3 separate regions of the Homo sapiens genome follow, and regions 1 and 2 are each linked to region 3. Evidence: fine-mapped expression QTL. A gene starts in region 3. Each other region holds a variant in brackets. All regions are shown on one strand. Distances are from middle to middle.

Region 1 (7,154 bases), 42 kb before region 3:
GAGTGAGCTGGAATGAAACTTAATGAATGTAAGAACATACTTCGTTTTTGTCAGATAAACTTTCCCACAGTTGTTCTGATAAACAGTGCTGCTTGTCATCCTGCCACGATGTGTGGGAGGAGCATGGCCTCAGCAAGTTTAAGGAAAGATTTGTGGTGTTGACTTTTCAGGGAACTTGACTGAGGGTTAACTGAAATCAAAGGAAGTGCTATGGGTGATCACATGTAGAGTTTTGTTTGTTTTTTTTTTTCTACCCAAAGAATAAGCCGCACCTGACATTATGTAGATCAGTCATCTCTGCCCAGCAAATGATTTTAGCTAAGCACACTTATTTTTAGTTCTGGGTTGTGGGAGGGTTGTGTGGTTATCTTGGTAATTTAATTTCCTTGGTGGCCTGACTAGAATAGTGGTTTTAGGCAATTAATGCTGTAGAGAGCTGCATATCTTTATAATTAATAATTTGAGCACAACAGTTATTCTTAGGCTATTATGTGTGGACCTGTTAGTTTAATCAGAATGAAGAATCAGTGAGGCCAAATTTTTTATGTATGTTTGTTTGTTTGTTTGTTTGTTTTTTGAGACAGAGTTTTCGCCCTTGTTGCCCAGGCTGGAGTGCAATGGCGTGATCTCAGCTCACCACAACCTCCGCCTCCCGGGTTCTGGTGATTCTTCTGCCTCAGCCTCCCAAGTGGTTGGGATTACAGGCATGCACCACCACACCTGGCTAATTTTGTATTTTCAGTAGTGACAGGGTTTCTCTATGTTGGTCAGGCTGGTCTCGAACTCCCGACCTCAGGTGATCCACCCACCTTGGCCTCCCAAAGTGCTGGGATTACAGGCGTGAGCCACTGTGCCCAGCCCAAAATTTTATATTTAGTCTTTGAATGAGCCATTTAAGGAACAGCTGTGCTGGTTACCCTTGTCTAATTCTCAGTGGTCATGAGGTGGTGCTGTGGTCTGAATGTTTGTGTCCCTCTAATATTTATGTGTTGATAAAAAGAAACAAAATAATGGCATTTGCAGTAACCTGGATGGAGTTAGAGATCATTATTCTTAATGAAGTAACTCAGGAATGGAAAACCAAGCATATGTTCTCACTTATAAGTGGGAGCTTAGCTATGAGGATACAAAGGCATAAGAATAATACAGTGGACTGGCCGGACGTGGTGGCTCACGCCTGTAATCCCAGCACTTTGGGAGGCTGAGGTGGGCAGATCACAAGGTCAGGAGATCAAGACCATCCTGGCTAACACGGTGAAACCCCGTCTCTACTAAAAAATACAAAAAATTAGCCGGGTGTGGTGGCGGGTGCCTGTAGTCCCAGCTACTCGGGAGGCTGAGGCAGGACGAGAATGGCGTGAACCCAGGAGGCGGAGCTTGCAGTGAGCAGAGATTGCGCCACTGCACTCCAGCCTGGGTGACAGAGTGAGACTCTGTCTCAAAGAAAAAAAAAAAGAATAATACAGTGGTCTTTGGGCACTCGGGAAAGGATGGGAGGGGAGCCAGGGATAAATGACTACACATTGGGTACATTGTACACTGCTTGGGTGATGGGTGCACCAAAATCTCAAAAATCACCGCTAAAGAACTTCTCCATGTAACCAAGCACCACCTGTTCCCCCAAAAACCTATTGAAATAAAAAAAAAATAAAAGAAAAAAACATATTGAAATCTAATCCCCAATGTGTTGGTATTAAGAGGTGGGGCCTTTGGGAGGTGACTAGGCCATGAGGGTAGAGCCCTTGTGAATGGGATCAGTGGTTGTATAAAAGAGGCCCTTTGACCTTCCGCCATGTAAGGACACAGGGCACCATCCATGAGGAATAGGTCCTCACCTCACATGGAATCCGTTGGCTCCTTGATCTTGAACTTCCCAGCTTTCAGGACTGTGAGCAAGACCTTTCTGTTGTTTATAAATTACCCAGTTTAAAGTATTTTGTTACAGCAGCAGGAATGAACTAAGAGAGGTGAGTTGTATGATGGTGTGTGGTTATGATAGGAGGATTTATTCAGAGCCCACCTTCTACTTGATTGGGCTTTGCAATCATCAGTCTCTCTCAGGAGAATCACAGACTTCCTGTGACCCCGCTGTTGTAGTTAGAGTACTCTGTGCCCTCACATGGCTCTACCTCCTGATCAGCTTTTCATTTAGTTGTGGCCTGCAGGGAGACCAGTGCCTTGGAAAGGCAAATGTAGTTTCTGTCTCTAAAGGTCTCTTGAAATCAATACAGAACATAAATTTTGTACCTACCAGTCCATAGTATTAGGAAAGATTTGTGATAGTTTTGCTTTGGAGTAGAGAAAAAATATAAATTAGAATTTAAATTATTTATTCCTTCTGCAAGCAAAAGCAAATATTCAAATTGGATGGGCTGTGTTCCTTCTTGTGGTGTTAAGCAAAAAACTTCAAGCAATAGGCACTAACTCAGAAAACTGTTCTCCATGCTCTTAGGAAGCATCCATGAGAGATTTTTGTTAAATAGCTGCTAATCCAGCATCCAGGGGTTCACAGTTTGTGTTAGCTCCATGGAAGAAGCTTCACAGGAGGGGGAGCTTCTCATTGATGAAATGGCTGGATTCATGGAGTTCTTTTTCCTTAAGCTGCTTGTTTTATTAGGTAATGCTATCTTAACATAGACATATTTTCCTATGTATTGTGAACATAGGGGCATATATTCTTGTTTGCCTACACAGTCCCAGTTGAAACCTGTTGTGCCAGCTCAGCAAGCAACACTTTCACTCTCAAAAGTGTCCTGGTTTTGACAATAAATTACATGAGCCATTCTAATTTATAATTATAAGGGAATAAAATGATCGAAAGTGTATGATTGATTGGCTTAAACTAATGTTCTCATAGTTAGATATTGTCTGTTATGCTTATTAATCAGTTTTTTCAGGCTTTAGTTGAGAGGGCTTCCCAGCTTCAACCCAAGCCTTAGAAAGTTACTTCTTCATCTCTAATTAGGGGCAATGCTAGTACTTCCTTATGGGTTTGTTTTGGGGATTAAATGGGTTAATACAAGTCGGGTGCTGGTATGTAGGGAGTGTTCAGTAGACATTAGGTATTTTAATGTTATTAGAAAATAATCAGTCAATGTTAAAAGTTCTAGAAAAGAGTATGCAAAAGACTGGCAAGGAGCAGAAAAATCAAGACCTCAAGTAGTATTGCCATCAATGTAAATCATGGCAGTTGGTTTATTTTTCCTCTCTCAGATGGCACAAAGTAAGAGGTGGGATACAGGTCTGCCTACCTCCAAAATCCTTTCTTATCCATGAGACCAGACTTGCTACTGCTGGGGTTGAGCTACAGTGGGTACCAGGCCAGGCAGGGCAGAGACCTGCCTTGTCTATTTCTGGGGGTGGAGTGGCAGGATTTGGTAAAAGGTTGTTAATGGGAATGAAGAAAAGAGGGCACTCAGATTTTCAGTTCAGGGGCCTGGGTATATGATGGTATTGTTAAGTGAGTTCAAGGGTAAGCGGCCTCCTTGGATGGGGTGGAGACAGAAAGTATTGCAGTCCTGGTGACAGCATGGACTTTGTAGTCAGACACCAGAGCTTCAAAACCTGTCACGATCACTTCACTTCCTAGCTAGGTGTGCCTCGGTTTCTTCATCTGTAATAGGATATCTACTATATAAGGTTCTTGTGGCGATTTAAAGGTTTATTAAAAAGTAAAGCATGTAGGACAGTGACTGATGAGCACTGTGTAAGATTTGATCATTATCACTATTTTTAACTTGCCTCTTTAGGG[A/G]TTTCTATGGGAAGTATATCTATATATCTACAGTTATCTTTCAAATAGCATTTGTACAAAACTTCAAAGCAGTCATCTATTGAAGCTTTTTAATAAACTTTATAGAAATCATTGCTTTCTTTTTTTACCATTTTTGTGATTAATAGAAGCGGCCCAGAAAAAGTTTACCCTTTATTTATTAATACTCTATCCCTTCCCAAATTTGGTTGGTACCTGCTGATATCTAGAGATCTGGGATTCTATATTGCTTGAAACCTTGGTCATATTCTTCTATCTTTCCACAAATGGCTCAGGAATCCAATCAGGGTTCTCAATGTAGGCATTACTGCCCCAGAGAGTATTTGTTGATTTCAGGATATTTTCTTGTTGTCCCTATGTTCAGTGGCTGGGACCATGAATGCTTTATAGCATGCAAAGTATGAGGCACAATTCTTACACAGTGAAGAATTGTCCCATGCTGCTTATAGGAGTGACCCATTAACTTTCCCATGGGTGAAAAACTTGTTCATTAATATCTGAGCCTATAATTTAAGTCTATTTTACATATAAATGTATTTTTTCTGGTTTAATAGACACCAGCCTAATTTTTCCAAGTATATAGCTACTGTCTACTAAATACTTTATTTGGAATCTTGTCAAGAATTATTTATTTTGGAGATCCACATCACTAATGGTAATGATATAAGTTGTGTTTGGGTCACAAATATTTGTATCTGTTAAAAATTCACATAATTAAATGTATAGATCCAAGCATTTGACCACTTCATGTTGAATGAATGAATGACATTATTTCAAATAGTTCTGCCTAAGCATTTACATGTTCCATTACATGTCATTATATATTTTTCTCTCCGTTTTTCCTTTGAATTATGATTATGGTTACATATACACTTGCAGGCAGGCCTTGATTTCACAGTTCTGACATGTATTTGAGTTATCATGATTTAGTTAAATAATACCAGTCTCCCTGCAACAGTCCAAATTTTAGTTACCACATTATATTAACTGTAAGTAGTTGCATAAAGCTATCAAACTTAATTGATAGCTCTCCAGTTCGCAGCTCATCATGTAAATAACATACAGGAGTGGCCAGTCATCTCACTTCTTTCAAAGTCTGTTGGAGATTGGTCACTGCACATCTGGTATTCAGTTCATGCACAGGTGGCAGCAAAGTGTGTAGTTGTGTTGCCTCCTTGTTTGCCAATAATAAACTCCATGACATTTTACAAAAAGAGATATTTGAAAGAGGGTATACCAACAAAAATTAAAGTTCAGGAGAGAAATGAAAAGTGATAATATAGGAAGTGAAATTTGAATCACAGGCATATGGAAATACAAAAGAAATAGCTAACCAGGGGAAGGTTAAACCTCTATAATATGCTGTTAGATGAACTTAATGAAGGCAAAGTTATTAACATCTACAGGGAACGGATGAGCTATCCCAGAGTAAGTGATGCTGACAAGAAACTTCACAATTAAGGAATTTTTGAAATATTTCATGACGTAGAAAGCACAAAGGATAAAATGTTGGAAGTTGACTCATACTTACAAAGGTACATGACAATTCTATAAGGCATAGAAAAAGATACTCACTCTGTATTATAAGTTATATACTGAGAAGAAGTCAAGAACTATTCAAGGACGTATGATATGGTTCAGGTTTTTTGCAAAATACGTAGAGGTAATTCATCGTTGGGTAATTGACAGATGGCTTTCTGTGTTACGAAAGATATTTTGCTTCAGGCTAGCAGTAACCATCTTAAGCATTGTATATAGCTTTTTAAGACTGTTTAAAAACTATCATGGGTTAAGGGGCTGATTTACATTCTTTATGCTAAACTTGTTAGCCTCAATTATACATGCTATGTGTTTGTCTGCATATATATTTATGTAAATGTGTCCAGAATGTTGAAAAGTCTTGCATGTAACATTTAAACCTATACCTAGACTTGGAGACCCTGGGGAACCTAGTATCTATTTGCAGATTCTTGTCATAGGCTGATTAAATCAGATGTATGGTTCAATTCTAGGAGTTGCTGGGGAGTCTGCCCAGACTACAACCACTGAATATTCTCGAACACAATTTTTTTTTTTTTTTTAAAGACAGAGTCTTGCTCTGTCACGTGGGCTGGGGTGCAGTGGTGCGATCTCGGATCACTGCAACCTCCGCCTCCCAGGTTCACCCGGGTTTGAGCAATTCTTCTGCTTCAACCTCCTGAGTAACTGGGATTACAGGTGCACACCACCATGCCTGGCTAATTTTTGTATTCTTTTAGTAGAGACAGGGTTTCACCATGTTGGCCAGGATGGTCTTGAACTCCTGACCTTGTGATCACCTTGGCCTCCCAAAGTGCTAGGATTACAGGCATGAGCCACCACTTCCGACCGTACTCTAACATAATTCAAAGAGAAGTTGGCCAGTTTACTTTTATTAAAAATGTTTGCCTAAACTGAAATAAAAGGAATTTCCAATTTAATTCTGTATCTTGAGTTTCCAACTAAGGAGAAAAAGAGATGTGTGTCTCTAAGGATGACTTTTTTTTAAATCATTTTTATAATTTTAGATGATTTCCTTTCATTGTGGCTTATAAGAAAACTTCAAGAGTATTCAAAATGAAAGTTGCATTCAAAGTGAATCTTAGGAGTTTCTTGATAAATTGATGGAAAATTTTATTTAACACTGGTAGTCTTACTCCTCCCTATTCAGTTCTAATGATGATTTTGTATACTTTTGAAACTATAAATTATACATTTTTAAAATTTTTCTATAAGTTAATTTAGAAAGAACAGTCTATTTGTAGCATTTTCCCATGAAATTCATGTTATTACAGCCTTGTTTTTTTTTTTTTTTACATCTGTAACAAAACTTCTTGACAGCATTAATTATTCTCATCAAGCATTTCCATATTACACTGAACTAGGCAGCTGCAGGATACACATTTGTATACATTAGCATTAATAAGGATGTTTAAAGGAAAACTTTAGCAAAGTGCTAGGCTGTGTTACTGTGAATTCGAATGCTGTAAATAGGACAAAAATTGAATTTTCTTCACCTGTTTTGTGAATTTTACCACTAGATGGTGATGGAAGACTGGGGAGTGTGCTGAATTCTGCATCTACTATGATACTTGTATTATGTTGAAAATCGAAAATGTTTGTTCTTAAGTATTTAATTTTAGAAGTCATTTAGGGGTATCCAGAGATTCTTTTATGTATCATGCTGAGCACAGTATCTTTTTATATGGCGTGTGCTTAGTATTTATTGATAATTGGCTTCTTGTGGTGCTTAGTCTGGGTACAGTCTTTATAAGATTTAAATGGTTCCTACGCTTTATTTTGTCCTTGTTTTCTGTTTTTTTTTTTTTTTGTTTTTATTTGTTTTTTTCTAGTATGTCACATTTCC
Region 2 (7,154 bases), 44 kb after region 3:
ATTAGTGGTTTCTCCTAGACCAAATACATCAGACTCTGGAAGATCCTGTCCCTTATCTAGTGTCTCTGGGGGAACTTACATGTAATATTTTTTATGGTATTTTAGTTGCATAATGTCTCATTCTGATGTAAAATAGGTCCTCAGACCCACAGGGTTGTTTTGCCTTCTCTGGTGGCAGAAATCACACTTTGTGAGAGACAGGGATGACTTGGTAATCTAACTAAATGTTTACATTTTATCCAGATTATATTTCAGGAGCAGAACACCAGAAAATCTGAGTCTTAATCTTAGTATTTTTGCTCCTATCATGACCCTGAACGAGTATATTTCCTTCTACCTTTGTTTTTTGATGACCCAGGCAATAGTTGCAATGATGTTGATATTATTGATAAATCAATATTAAGTTTCACAATAATTTTTTTCATTTAATTCATAATGTCCAAGATGTTCTTTACATCCTTATTTGTAAGAATTTTCCTGGAATAATAGCACTGCCTTTTCTCTTCATTTACAGGGTAATACATTAAAACATTATTCTGTAAATCTTAAAGGCTTTGAATGATTAGGAAGTCTTCAAGTCAGACTGCCTAATTCCAACTTTGGGTACCTTCTTTTGGTCTTGACTCTTATGTTCAGAAGTAGCTCCCCTTCATTAGAACAGAAATTACTGAGTGGATAGGAATTGCTTTAGATGAGTCCTAAATAACATGTTTTGGGCTATAATCTTGCTCTGCTTTGGAAATGTTATTTGGTGATGATGAGGAAGGATAACAGAATTTTCATAAAACAAGCTATTAAAACTTCACCTTAAGAAAGGATACACACACGGGCCTGTGAATTTTGTAGTAAAAAGGGGAGGTAGAGCCACGTCAAGGACCACAGCCTCCTCTGAGTGTAGGCGCTTATAGATTTATACAGCCAACATTAAGTGCTCATTTCAGTGAGTAGAATTTCCCTACTGTGATCATATTTGAAGGGAAGGTCAGTTGGTCGGTTCTACTTAATAAATAAATGTAGGGACCATAGAGATAGGGACTGGCTTTTTTACCTGTGGTATTTCTAGTGCTCATCAGAGAAGCTAGCAAAGAATCAGTTTTCAATAAAATTATGTTGGAAGTGTGAATCTATAAATGACAAATATGCTAATGGCAGAAACCAAGATGAGTACCTTCTAGACACTGGCCCCATGATTTGTAGGATTAGTCTAATCTCAAGTAGAATTTGCCCACCTCTTCATCCACATAATTTGGAGGATTCCCTGGGTCTAAGAAGTCAGGATCAGGTCAGTTTAACGTCAGCAGAGCTTTGAGCCAGGTGGGCACTGAACGCTCAAATGTATTCTATTGTCAATGCAATTGCAGAAGGCCTGGCACAGACTCTCATACCTTCTCTGTTGTCCTAACATCTAAACTAAATGAGGATCTCCTAGTATGGGGCTAGCAGGTACTGTTTTTTCTCTTTCTTTTCTTTTCCTTTCTTCTCTTTTCTTATTTGCAGAAGCTCTAATTTATCCACCCTACCATGCCCTAACCAACTCTCAATTCCTATCCACCAGGATATATTTTGAGTTAGGGAGATGGGACCATTATATCAAATTTGGTTTTTAATTTCTACAATGTAACTCAAGGTATAGAGGTAGTTGTTTACATCACCTAACGGTAGTGAAAGCATACTACATTTTGGTACTTGCAGAATTTAGTCTTTTCTTTCAGCTCCTGAAGTGATCTATTAAATGAAATCCTGTGGGTAAAGTGAAGCTGGTACTCTTTGTGTTTGTATTTTAATGAGAAACATATGATTATATATTGATAAATTGAAATACATTATTTATTCCTCTCCTCTGCTTAAGATTTTGTTAGTAAATACTCAGTAAGCCATTTTTTTCAGCAAAGTCAAAACTTTTTCTTGGTTGACTTGTGGGTTTTAAAAGGCTTTTTCCATTAACTTGGGCATTGTTTTGCCCACTTGCTGCAAGCAGTGAAGGCCTACTGTAAAAGCATTTGTTGGTTCCAGGAAATTTTCTTGTCAAGGCCTATGATCCTGTGAGTAAAAGGCAAAAGTTTGAAGGCTGTGCTGTCATTTGGCAATCCTTATTTTGAATTTTTATTACTCTCTCACTTTTAAAATATGATAGTTATTTGTCTCTCATGGCTAGAGTTTTCTTATTTCTAGCTATTCAGACATTCTGTTTAGTTTCTTTCCCAGAACTTTGTTATGAAGAAAACACTTTCCTTAGCTTCATTTCACTAAGTATACTAAAGATTTATCAGGTAAGGTTTTCTAATTTGTATGTTACAGAGAGGAAGGTAAAAAAACAGGGGTTATTCAATGAATGCCCTACTTTTCAGGGCTTCCTTAGTATGCATTGCCCTTTTCCATTCCCAGGGAAATAAATCTCTCTTGTCAAGAAGTTGATAGTAAGGTGGGCTAAGGCAAAACTTTTCTCTTGACCTATGGATAGAAAATAAGTCATTGTAAGAGAAGAAATGGAAAAGGGACATCTAGAAGGGTGAGTAACCCATTTTTTCCTTGTCTATAAGTCAAATGAATTTGAATACATTCATGCTTGAAATATTGGTGAAACCAATGTTCTCTGATTACTTAGTGTGATTCATAATGGCCTTTCCAAGTTTGGTGAAACTATAATTATACAAACAAAATAAGGACCGAGTCTTGAACTTGCTTTTTCTCCATTTCTGTTAGAAACTTCTCTGGGTTCATGCATTTATGCTCTTGATCCATTCTCTCTATTCCTGAACAACTGGCTATTCAATAATAATACTGTTCATATATTTTAAATCCCTGAATGCTATCCTCATTTGCTCCTCAATTATTTGGCAATATTTTGAACTTCTGTGATTTTGCTTTTGTGATTCTATTACTTAGGAGATGCCAAAATTGGCAATAACAGTGTCAGCTCTTTAAAGAATGATGACTTCACCATGAGAGGTTTGCGATGTGATGGGAATGCTGATGATATCTGGACTGCCTCACAAAATCCAAAATCCTGTGGGAAAAGCATTTCCATAGAAACTGCCAATTTAAGAGAATACGCTAGATATGTACTGAGGACTATCTGTCAACAGGTATTCTAATTTAATTTGCCTTTTACTTTGAGTACGTAACTCTTCTTTTGGAGAGAGCTACTTACACTTATAGGAAACTTGTGCATAGGTGGGCCTTTTTTTCTTGCTCACTTTATTTCGAAATAATTTTAAGTTTGCTGAAAAGTTGCAAGAATTATTTTTAAAAAACTCATGTCCATCCTTTACACGGATTTACTAATTTTTACATTTTGCTACATGTGCTTTGTAATTTGTATGTGGAGATGTGGGTGCATATACCTATTTTTTCTGAATCATTTAAGAGTAGATTGTATATTTTATTCTTTTGAATATTGCATTATTTCATAACATAACCAAAATATAGCTATTAAACATCAGAAAATTTAGCTTTTGGTACAGTAATTTTTTCTCATCTATAGGCCACAGTTCGATTTTATTAATTGTCCCAGTATTGTTGGATTTGTCTGAGGTTTCCTGTAGATTAGCTTCAGATTATGCATCCCTGGCCAAGATACTACAGAAATAATCTTGAGTTCTTTCAGGTAATCATGTCTGAAGGCATGTGATGTCCATTTGCACCTCAAGGGTGATGTTAATTTTGATTAAGATGTTTCCATTGTATAGTTTCAAGATTAGTAACTATACAGTGGGGACTGTGTAGTTACTAATTTTCCCCTTGCAGTAAGCAATCTTTGAGGAGATACTT[C/T]GAGACAGTGCAAATTTTCTTCTCCTTGTTTAACTCCCCCACCCCTCATAAGCATTCATTTTCATTCTTGCCCAGTCTAGTCTTTACTATGATGGTTGCAAAATGGTGGTTTTTTTTTTTCCCCAACTTCTCCTCTCCCTTCATAATATCAGTTTGTGTCCTATTTTAAGGAAGAGCCTGCCCTCCTCTCCCCTGTTTATTTATTATCCATATGGGTTATAATATACTGTACTTAGTTATTTTCATGTTCAGACTGTCCCAGATTTGTGCAGTAGGAATCTATTCATCCTATCACATCATTTGACATTTTAAAAATAGTTGGTATTTTCATAGTTTCTGGCCCATGTTGTACTTTCTCTGCCCCGGGCCTGGAATCAACTATTCCTCCAAGGAGCCCTTGGTTCTATTTAGCAGAGAACGTTACTGAGAAACCAAGATCTGGGTATTATGTATGCTCATGGTTATGGAGTATCATTAATTCTACGACCTGTCTGCAGACAAAGCTAGAAAGAAAAATATATCCATACACTTAAATATATGTAAATATATATATTTATGAGGTCCTACTGATACCTTCAATTCCAATCCAACCCCACAAAGTTGTTCTGTGTTTTCCCCTAATTCATATTAGTATCACCTTCTTCCCTAGTAAGAATGCTGATTCCCAAAAACGTCAATTTACTTGTTTGTTTAATTCTATGATACATCTGAAATAGTTTTAAAATGTTACACATGGCCGGGCATGTTAAATGTGCTATCCAGCGCTTTGTCAAAAAATGATTAATTAAAATACAGTATCAAAAATGTACACTAGGCTAGGGCGCAGCGGCTCAAGCCTGTAATCCCAGCACTTTGGGAGGCTGAGGCAGGTGGATCACTTGAGGCCAGGAGTTTGAGACCAGCCTGGCCAACATGGTGAAACCCCATCTCTACTAAAAATACAAAAATTAGCCAGGTGTGGTGGCACATGCCTGTCATCCCAGCTACTTGGGAGGCTGAGGCATGAGAATCGCTTGAAACTGGGAGGCGGAGGTTGCAGTGAGCCGAGATTGCGCCACTGCACTCCAGCCCTGGTAAGAGAGCAAGACTCTGTCTCAAAGAAAGAAAGAAAGAAAGAAAGAAATGTTACACACATACCACTAGGAAGAACAAACCTACCTAAAAGGCTTTGAAGATTTGTTTGCAATTCCATTTTCTCTAAGGGTTTAAAATACTGTGTTCAAAAATTATTTGAACTTTTCCCATCCCTATGAGTGTATTCTTTATGTGAAATAGAACTAGGTTCATTTGGTTTTGCATTATTTAAATTCCTTTCTTGTCCCCAGCTCTGGCTATAGAATAGCTTACTTTCAAAAGTGAAACTATACAAAAAAGTATACTCAGAGATGTGTCTCCCTCCCATATCCCTCTTACCAGATGATCCAGTTTTATTATTTTTTGGTTTATTCTCCCTCCCATATATTTGTTTTAAAAGTTCTCTTATAAAAAAAAAGTGACATACCTTATATATTATTTTGTACTTTGCTATAGGTGTCATACCGACTGGGTCATGTTTTTGTATTTTTACAGGCATGTTATAACTATGGTAAAAGATAGCTACATAGTCATATAAGTATTGAGAGGCAATTGTGTGTTGGTTCCCAACTGTGAGTGCATATTGGAATCAGCTGGGGCATTTAAAACAATTTGGATGCCTAAAAAATTACTGATATTTGGGTGCCACCACCTGAGTTTGACTTAATTAGTCTGATGTGGGCCCTGGGCATGGAATTTTATAAAGATCCCAGGTAATTTTAGTGGGCAACCAGCATTGAGCCACTGGTATGGTGGTTAAAAAACAGACTTCACCCGAAATAGATCTGGGTTCAAATTGGGCTCTGTTACTGTTGATGATTTCTTACTTTATTTAGTATAATAATTTGCCTTTGAAAAAAATGGTAAAGAAAAGGCAATAGGAGTTTAAATTGGTAGAAACTCTTCAGAGGGTCATTAACCCCATGCATCTATAGCCCCCCACTCACACTGGACCCAGCAATTGCACTTCTATGAAATTACCCTAAGAAAATTATTGTATAAAAAAGAGATGTGCACTACTACTCATTTATAATGATAACATTATTCATAATAGTATCAAAAAGGAAGATCGTTTTCTAAATATTTGTTATACTATGTTGTATCTAGTCAGTGAGATAGTACAATGTATTCCATAAAAATTATGAAGAACGTATATCTGATAGAATCATTATATAGCAAGTTAGAAAAAACTGACACAAAATAGTGCCTAGAGCAAGACCTTACTTTCCAGTTAAAAACATACTAATATTCTCTTTATTGTCTTTTCTTTTTTCCCATTAAAAAATGTTTTTAAGCAAGTTCTACTTTGTATTTTTTAGAAGCCAAAATGCTAAAAATTTTGTTTTTTAAAATTTTTCTACCTACTTTTTAATGTAATTTTTTAAATTGGAAAATTCCTATCAGTTTTCTATTCAATTATGCACTGTGGATTTAGTACATATTGCATATATATATACCGAAAGCCAGTGCCTGTCAATCTAATTGCCATATTATTTTTAGGAATGGGTAGGAGAGCATTGCTTAAAAGAACCTGAAAGATTATGTACAGACAAAGAACTTATATTGGACCCTGTGCTTTCAAATATGCAAGCACAGAAATTACTGCAGCTTATCTGTTATCCTCATGGCATTAAAGAATGTACCGAGGGGGACAATCTGCAAAGACAGCACATTAAGCGTATTCTTCAGGTCAGTCGTATACAGATTGTGTTTCTGTCATTTGATAAATTCTTCGTAATAATAAAAAGAGTTACTTCCTCTCTTTTTTTGTCCTTGCTAATTTGTGATTTCAATTCTGATTTTTATTCCCACACATTTTCTGTGGAATTGACATACTTTATTTTTGGGTGGATGTACATGCTGCAAATTGTATATGATCATCAAACAAATATTGATATTTTAAATCAGTATTGTATTTACATGAGAAATATGCTTCAGAGAGGGGCTATGTTAAATATATTATTAAAGAAATATTGAAATCATTTTGGATTGGGATTGGTTAAATAGATTTTGAAAGGAGAAATGCTTATTTAGTTTCAGTGCATAGCTGAGTCAGGCACAGTATTAACTAATTAATAATTAATGTTTCTGTTTATTGGTTTGTATCGCTACTGAATATATATGCAGCAAGATTGGGAACCTTTTGACTCATATAAATTATTTCATTGTGTATGATTATTCTGCTCTTTCTTGAGAGAAGGAGTACTGTAAGAAATTACTGTATTTTAACACATTTGATACCCATAATGTTTTAATTCTTTCCATTTTTCCCAGAATCTTGAGCAGTGGACACTGAGGCAATCCTGGTT
Region 3 (7,154 bases):
GTAGAGATTGAAATTGTCATTAGAGGCAAAATACACAGGTTACCCCACCAGACATACCTGGCTGTTTAACAAGGGTAGCTTGGATGCAGTTATTTACATGATTATAGTCTATTTGTGATTGTGTAATGTACTCAGTAGAGGTAATATGGATTTAGTGGCATCCCTAATAGTAATGATTATTTAATTCTTTTATCAGAGAGAATGAAGATCAGACATCAAGAGTACTTTCTAAAGGTGTTTGTTATATTCACAGTTACAAATTTTACTTAACCATTATCAATAGTGCATAGCTAAAGGATTTTGTCAATAGCTTTAAAACTTTGGATTTGGCTATTCCATGATCCTCCTGTTGTCATGATCATTCACTAGTGACCCCAGGAGCACCACAATTTTCAGGCCCTACATACATGTTATAGGAGAGTGGACAGAGCTTGAGCTTTCATTTCAAGAAATTTATGTTGTCTTTGGATAATAAAAACATCAATGAGAATTGGCTTCCCTTTTGCTTCTCTAATACATAAAATAAACCAAATGGGCTTTATTTTATCAAACATTTATTGATTGCACAATGAAACAATCTCTCCTTTCAGATATATACATCAGTTACTAAAAGAGTAGATACAAAGGTCAGGAAGTAATTACAATGCAATGTGATAAGTTTAATAATATAGGTGTGACAGCATACAGAGGAGGGGGTGATTGGGTTTGAGGTGATGGTGGGATATTGGCCAGGTAATATTTCATGGACCAAGTGATGACAACATAGGGTTTCACAGATGGATAAGAGTCTTCCAAGTGTACCAGGGGGAAATATACATGTGTGGTGCCAAAACAGAGTATGGCATTTTCTGAAAGTTAGAAATTTATACAAGAGTATAAAGTTCAAGAGATGGATAAGTAGCTAGGAGGTAAGGCCAGAAAGGTAGGCAAGTTCTAGGGCCTTTGAGGCCATGGAAGAAAACGTGGGCTTCACCCTACGATGGTCGTGTTGGAGCTCGTGGCACATTTACAGAGCTTAACTACTCCTTTATGTATTTTTTCTAGAAGATGTAGACTCTTATCCATCATTTCAGAAAGCCACATTTTACTTTTTTGAATCACAGAAGGATGCAAGAAAAAATACCAAGGTAAATAAATACAAGCAGGGTCACCATCCTTTGAAAAATCTCTCAATATGGATGTTACTGATTGTGGGTCAGCAATTACGTCTTTGTATGTATCGAGAATAGCAATTCTATTTAAAACATCTGTAGACCATGGACTGTAGGTCGTATTATGGGAGATACCAAGAAAATCTGGCATGTCTGTCTCTCAAGAAGCTTTAACATTTTTAGCGGATGCAGTCAAGAATATAGCTAACTAGAAAAGGGAGATCTGCATTGAGAACCCTATCACACACCCAAACAGTAGAAGTATTTGTTTTTAATGAGGAGGGTGGGGCAGGGGGATAGGGGTTGTGGTCCAGGAAGGCATTGCTGAGTAGGTGCCATGTTTAACCATCATTAGAGTATTTGCTGGACAGAAGGAGAATTCCAAAGAATAGTTAACACAGCATTCTCACACTTGAATTGTACACACTTAAGGTGTAAGCAAAGTGGCTTAATAATGGTGCTTGTGCCTCCTATGGTATATTATTGTAATGTGAAAGAGGCTGTTTGTAATTGTAAGGAGAAAATCCTTTACCCAGGATTTCAGAGGTCTTGCTGACCCACTTCAGTTCCTCAGACTCTTCAAGTCTGCATCCCTTTCAACCCCTGGCTGCAGTTTTCAGCAATGGACTTCAAGAGTTGGGCGTTTTTTTTTTCTTTCAGCACATATCTACATTTAAGGGGCACAAAAGCAGTAGTGTTATGTGAATTGTGGAAAAGAATGTGAGAAGGTGTTTGGAGGGGAGGTTTGTAGGGATATACGTTTCTCCTTAGTCTTTTCCAAAATGTTAAAGTGAAATGCTCTTGAAATTAAAAAAAAAAAAAAAGAAAGAAAGAAATAATGACCTCTAGTGGCCATTTGTATCCTGTTGCATTCTCTTAGTAATGGTTCATTCAGCTTATGAATAGATCTATGTGGATTTAAATTTTATATAATCTTTTCTGTACACGAGGATAATAAAATGTAAGAGAGCATTTGTTCCAATCTTTTTTTCTTGGTTAAATTTGATTTCCACATTATCTACGGAAGTCTCATCAATAAATAGAAGTTAACCCTATGTACAGTTGTCAGCCTAAGGTTATGTTGTCTGTCTGACTGCTATGATTTTCTTGGCTTGATGCTGTGGTCTTTCTCCCTTGCATACATGGTAGCTTTTCTGTGAATTTTTTACATAAGAATATGTATATTAAGGGATCCATACAAATGTTAGTTGCTGCCAAAAAGAGAGTTGTTTCTTTAGCAATAAACAGTTGATTTTGCAGTCTACAGTCAGTCTTATTGTTGGTTTGACTGTGAGTATATGGAACTCTGGCAAAATGAAATGGAGCAAAACACACAAAGAAGACAGCCACGACAACAAATACTTTGCCTTCCAGCTTTTTGTTGTTTTTTCTGTCCTTACTTTTGGACTTTCTATAAGAATCATATACTTTTTTTGCAATAACCACATAAAACACAAGCATTAGGATAAAAACAGTCCAGAAAATAAACTGGCATATGTTATTTACCATTTGATGCCATTTCAGCCCCAGAGGCCCCTTTAAGGAAGCACACTTTTTCACAGACGATGGTGTTGCTTCCTTGTTGCTCAAGATCGTATTTGGCAGGGAGATGAAGAACAAAAAGAACCAGATGAAGATTGAGACCGTTTTTGCAAAAACAGGTTTTTTTAGAAAAATATTTCTCAAAGGTCTGATGATCTTGAGGAATCTGTCAAAGGCTATGAGCCCTAACAGCACGATGCCCACATACATGGTCTCATAAAATATCACCGAAGAAAAACGACACACAAAAGCTCTGAGCTGCCAGGGTGCCAGGTGTGAGTCAGAGAGGATTTTGAAAGGAAGCATGAGTGTCATTATCAAGTCGGCCACCAAAGTGTTTTTGAGGTAGATGATGAAGGTGGAGGAGCTGGGGATGTGAACAAACACCCACAGAGCCAAAGTATTCAGCAGGATGCCGGTCAAGAAAACCACTGTGTAGAGGGCTGGGAATACCAGCTGTACTATCCGAGTGTCTCTGGGGCACCGCTCAGATCTGTTGAAGCCTTGCATCACTGTGGTGTTCATTGCTTCCAGTGTCACCTGTTACCAATAAACATATATACAAACAAAAGAAAACAAAAAGCCCTTCATGATTTTCAAATGCTATTTTTTAAAAACAGACTTTATGTTTATAGCATATTAACATCCTGCATTTATCCAACACTTTCAATAGATGTGTTGAAAAGGAAAATACTGTTTTCTGGCTAGAATTTTTAAAGCATATAATACATTTTTGGTACTTTTAACAGTACCATTACTTTCACATCCTTGTGAAATCCAAATAACAGGTTCTGCCTCATTCACAGGTGCTACTGTTAGCCATAAAACAAAACACTGTTTAAGAGATAATAATACATTATTATTACTAATACATCAGATTGCTGTAAATTATGTAATTTCTTATGCTCATAAACTATGGTTTGTAGAATATTAACTTTAAAGCACCTTTTTTCCCTTAAGCATATTCTTTTATATAAGCAAGCACACTCATAATAACAAAAATTGAAATTCACCTTTGGGAGGATACTCAGTTCTCTCTGTCTTCTTATGGCGGCAGTCATTAGTTCAGCCTACAAATGAGCATGTGAAGCAAATGTTCTGCTTTCTTATAGTGGATTTCCTTCCTTATTTTTACTTATGTAATGTGACCCATTAGAACCTCTTCATATTTAGACCTTTGGGACATTTGCTAATACTCTATTTTAGTTCAAACTTTCATACTGTTAATCTGTGACTTGAATAAAGAAGCTTATTTGCAATTATCTTTAAATTTCTTCATAACTTTCTTGAAGTTTATCTTCTTGATCTGCATGTTCAGTGAACTTTTTGAGTGCCTCTTGTATATAGTGGAAAGTAGAAAGATGAAGAAAATAGTCCCAAATTACAATCAAGTAGGAGAATAAGACTACCTAAAATCAGACAGAATAATCTTCTGTATCCTTGTAAACTGGATTTTCCAGTAATTTGTGTTCAGGAAGACGGTATGTTTATTTTTGTAGGTATTTGACTTAGTCTTCTGGTTTGGGGATCTCTGAGAGTTAACATGATGTTTTCTGAGAGGTGAAGACTATTAGATCCAGATTTTTGGAGTTAGAATCCCAGTTCCACCAATTAATTGGGATTAGATTATAGATAAATGATTCAACAGCTCTGTGTCTCAATTTCCTCATCTGTGTAATGGGTTTGAAAATAGTATCTAACACACTGTGTTATTAAGAATGAATTGGTTGCCTGGAATAGTGCTTGACATATAGGAGGCACTAAAAAATGTTAGCCACTTTTAGTGGCTTTTAGTCCCATTGCCATGGGAATGAATTGCAAATCCAGATAGAGATATTATACTCTTTCACTTAGTAGAGGGCCATTTTTAGAAATCTTTTTTGTATTTGGTGTATTTCGAGTGCAGAGGACTTCAGGAATTTCATCAATCAACATTGGGCCAATATCTGTGCATTTTTTTTGCTTTAATTCTCTTCAAGTTTGAAAGATGTAATGGTGCTTTTGCATAGAGAAAGTTGTTGTCCATGGCAGAAATCTACTTGCCAGGTAGGCATAGGAAAAGCGGAAATTAGGAGATCTTACGGAGGATGTGGAGTTCATGGTGAGTTTCATTTCATGTTTCTTGCCACAAGTGTTACCATGGAGTTAGACGAGACTAGTGTTAGTTGATCACAAAGTTTTGGGTGACTTGGCTTTGAATTCTGAGAAGAAAAACTTAATATCCCCCTGGACATTTTAAAATATGAGGCAATACAGTGTCTAATAGTTTTGATTAGACTACCCAATAACGGCACAGTTTGAAAAATTTCTCTTTGACTGAAATAAATTAATCCTTGGGAGTATAGATTCAAGATTTCATTAATAGAACATACATGTATGTCTTAAACATAAATGTATATCTTTTTGTTTGCTTCAGCAGAGGAAAAAAAATCCTTTATTTCTTAAGTAGAGAAATTTAACCTACAAAATTAATTGTAAATTTTCCTATAGCCCCAAATCCATAATCTAAAGGAAGATCTGGAATAGTTTTTCTTTAAGCAAGATAAATTCTGTGCAGGATAATTTCATAATCTGAAAACTGGAAATCACTTCTTGGTCAAATTTCAAAACACTGAAGTGTGGGAAACTTTCCAAAGAGGAACTGACTTACAGTGCCTGTTTCTAGAGTTATGGAAATAGAGTCTCTTAAATGTGGTAGATGTCAAAGTGTTTGACTATAGTAAATATCCAATAGATCATTCATTTCTATGTGTTTGTGCTTCTTATGTATTAGCTGATTTTTCCTTAGTTTACAGCAGCACTATTGCCTGCTGGGGAGGCCTTTTGCCCTTGAAGACACAGCTGAGAAGCTGCTCAGCAGAATGTTTAGGCGCCAGAGTGCCTGGGCTCAATTCCTTTTTCCAATTCTTTCTTTTCTTATGACCTTAGGCAAGCTGCTTATGCCCACTATGAAATGGTTGCCTTATCTTTACAATAAAAATAAATAATAGTATTTGCTTTACAGTGTTGTTAAAAGAATAAAATGAGTGAACATTCACCAGTGCTTAGAATAATGTCTGTCATGTGGTAGGTATCATGTAGGTTTCTTGTTAAATGAAATTGAAAGAAAATTGGAATGTTGTGCATACATATGGTGATGTCTCACGAAAGGAGAGAAGAATCAAAGAAGATACAGTGAAAGATCCCAGAGGCTAGGAGCCTATCAAATGGGAATAAACTAAACATTTAAGATCCTATAGGGCTCTAAGGAAATGTAGTTAAAAATCAGTAAAGTCACACTAGCTATACTGTTTTAAGTGATTATATTATCTTATTTAATCCTTAACAATCCCCAGAGATTGGTCCCATTTTTAGAGTTGAGAAAAAAGGAAATGCAGAAGTTAAGCCATTTTCCCCATATCATGCAACCCAAATCTGCCGTAAAGTCACACAGTTGGTCTGGTTCCAGAGCCCATGCTTGGAACCTGCCTCACTCTCTTGCCTCCGATTAAGCCATAGATAGGGTGACAGTGGAATTGTTTGCCAAATTCTGGAGTTCTTGAGCTGAAAGTTCCTGATGTGTGAGAAGGAAACAATCAGCCACAATGTTTAATGGACTTGTGAAACTTTATGCCAATGTAAATTGAGTGAAAGCAGTGTGATCAGAAGGGATACAAAGAAGATAAAATGAAAAGTCACAGAAATCAGTCTCTAGCCAGATAGGAATAAACTACTATTTCCATTTGTAGTCTTATTTGGGATTTCTCAGTTGCATCAAAATTGACAGTCCAAGGCCCAGTACCATATAAATAATATGTGAAAAGATGAGGAAGTATTTGCTTTCATTTGGGATGAAAATTGAAGTAGGAACTCCTATACTTCTATACTCTTAGAAAAGACTTTTACTTCCCATCAAAGTATACCATGGTACTTTCTCAGATTATGTGAAATTGTTTTAAAAATTCCATACAAGAGTAACTAAAAGTGGTAAACTAAAAGTGGTAATAATAAGCTGAAATAAGTTATACTTTTTATTAATGTAACAATCTGTTTTTCTGAGTAAGAACAATAGTAGAAAATATCTACATGTAGCTAGAGATAGGCAATAAATTCACTGCTATTTGGAACATTTAATATTTCACACTATGTTTAAAAATTGAAATACAAACATATATAGTAGAAAGTGAAAGTTAATACATATACATACCAATATATGTGTACAAATATATTTACATTTATTTATGTATTGGATTTTTGTTTCATTCCATGTTAGTACATGTAGACTGACGTGATTTTTTTTTTAACTTTATTTTAGGTTCAGGGGTACATGTGCAGGTTTGTTACATAGGTAAATTGTGTTTTGTAGGGGTTTGGTGTACAGATTATTTTGTCACCCAGGTGATAAGCATGGTACCGGATAGGTAGTTTTTCAGTCCTTACCCTCCTCCCACCCACTACCCTCAATGTAGGCCCTGGTGTTTG

Evidence for each region.
Region 1: its variant is fine-mapped to the expression of P2RY13 in whole blood (TOPMed, PIP above 0.99).
Region 2: its variant is fine-mapped to the expression of P2RY13 in whole blood (TOPMed, PIP 0.95).

Annotation. Positions count from the first base shown.
Region 1 is chr3:151,284,048-151,291,201 of GRCh38, forward strand. All of the region lies in intron 16 of MED12L (mediator complex subunit 12L), which reads left to right. Among named protein-coding and RNA genes, the nearest start is that of P2RY14, 9.1 kb to the left of the region's middle. RefSeq lists a silencer at 1-268. The variant A/G (reference allele first, on the strand shown) is at 3,752.
Region 2 is chr3:151,369,681-151,376,834 of GRCh38, forward strand. It overlaps MED12L (mediator complex subunit 12L), which reads left to right. Exons shown (of 45, transcript NM_001393769.1): 27 at 2,887-3,086; 28 at 6,346-6,534; 29 at 7,120-7,154. All of the region lies in intron 1 of P2RY12 (purinergic receptor P2Y12), which reads right to left. Among named protein-coding and RNA genes, the nearest start is that of P2RY12, 11 kb to the right of the region's middle. The variant C/T (reference allele first, on the strand shown) is at 3,772.
Region 3 is chr3:151,325,775-151,332,928 of GRCh38, forward strand. P2RY13 (purinergic receptor P2Y13) reads right to left here and starts at 3,775. Exons shown (of 2, transcript NM_176894.3): 1 at 3,707-3,775; 2 at 538-3,233. The coding sequence starts at 3,754. The coding sequence ends at 2,217. The region is part of intron 16 of MED12L (mediator complex subunit 12L); the gene reads left to right.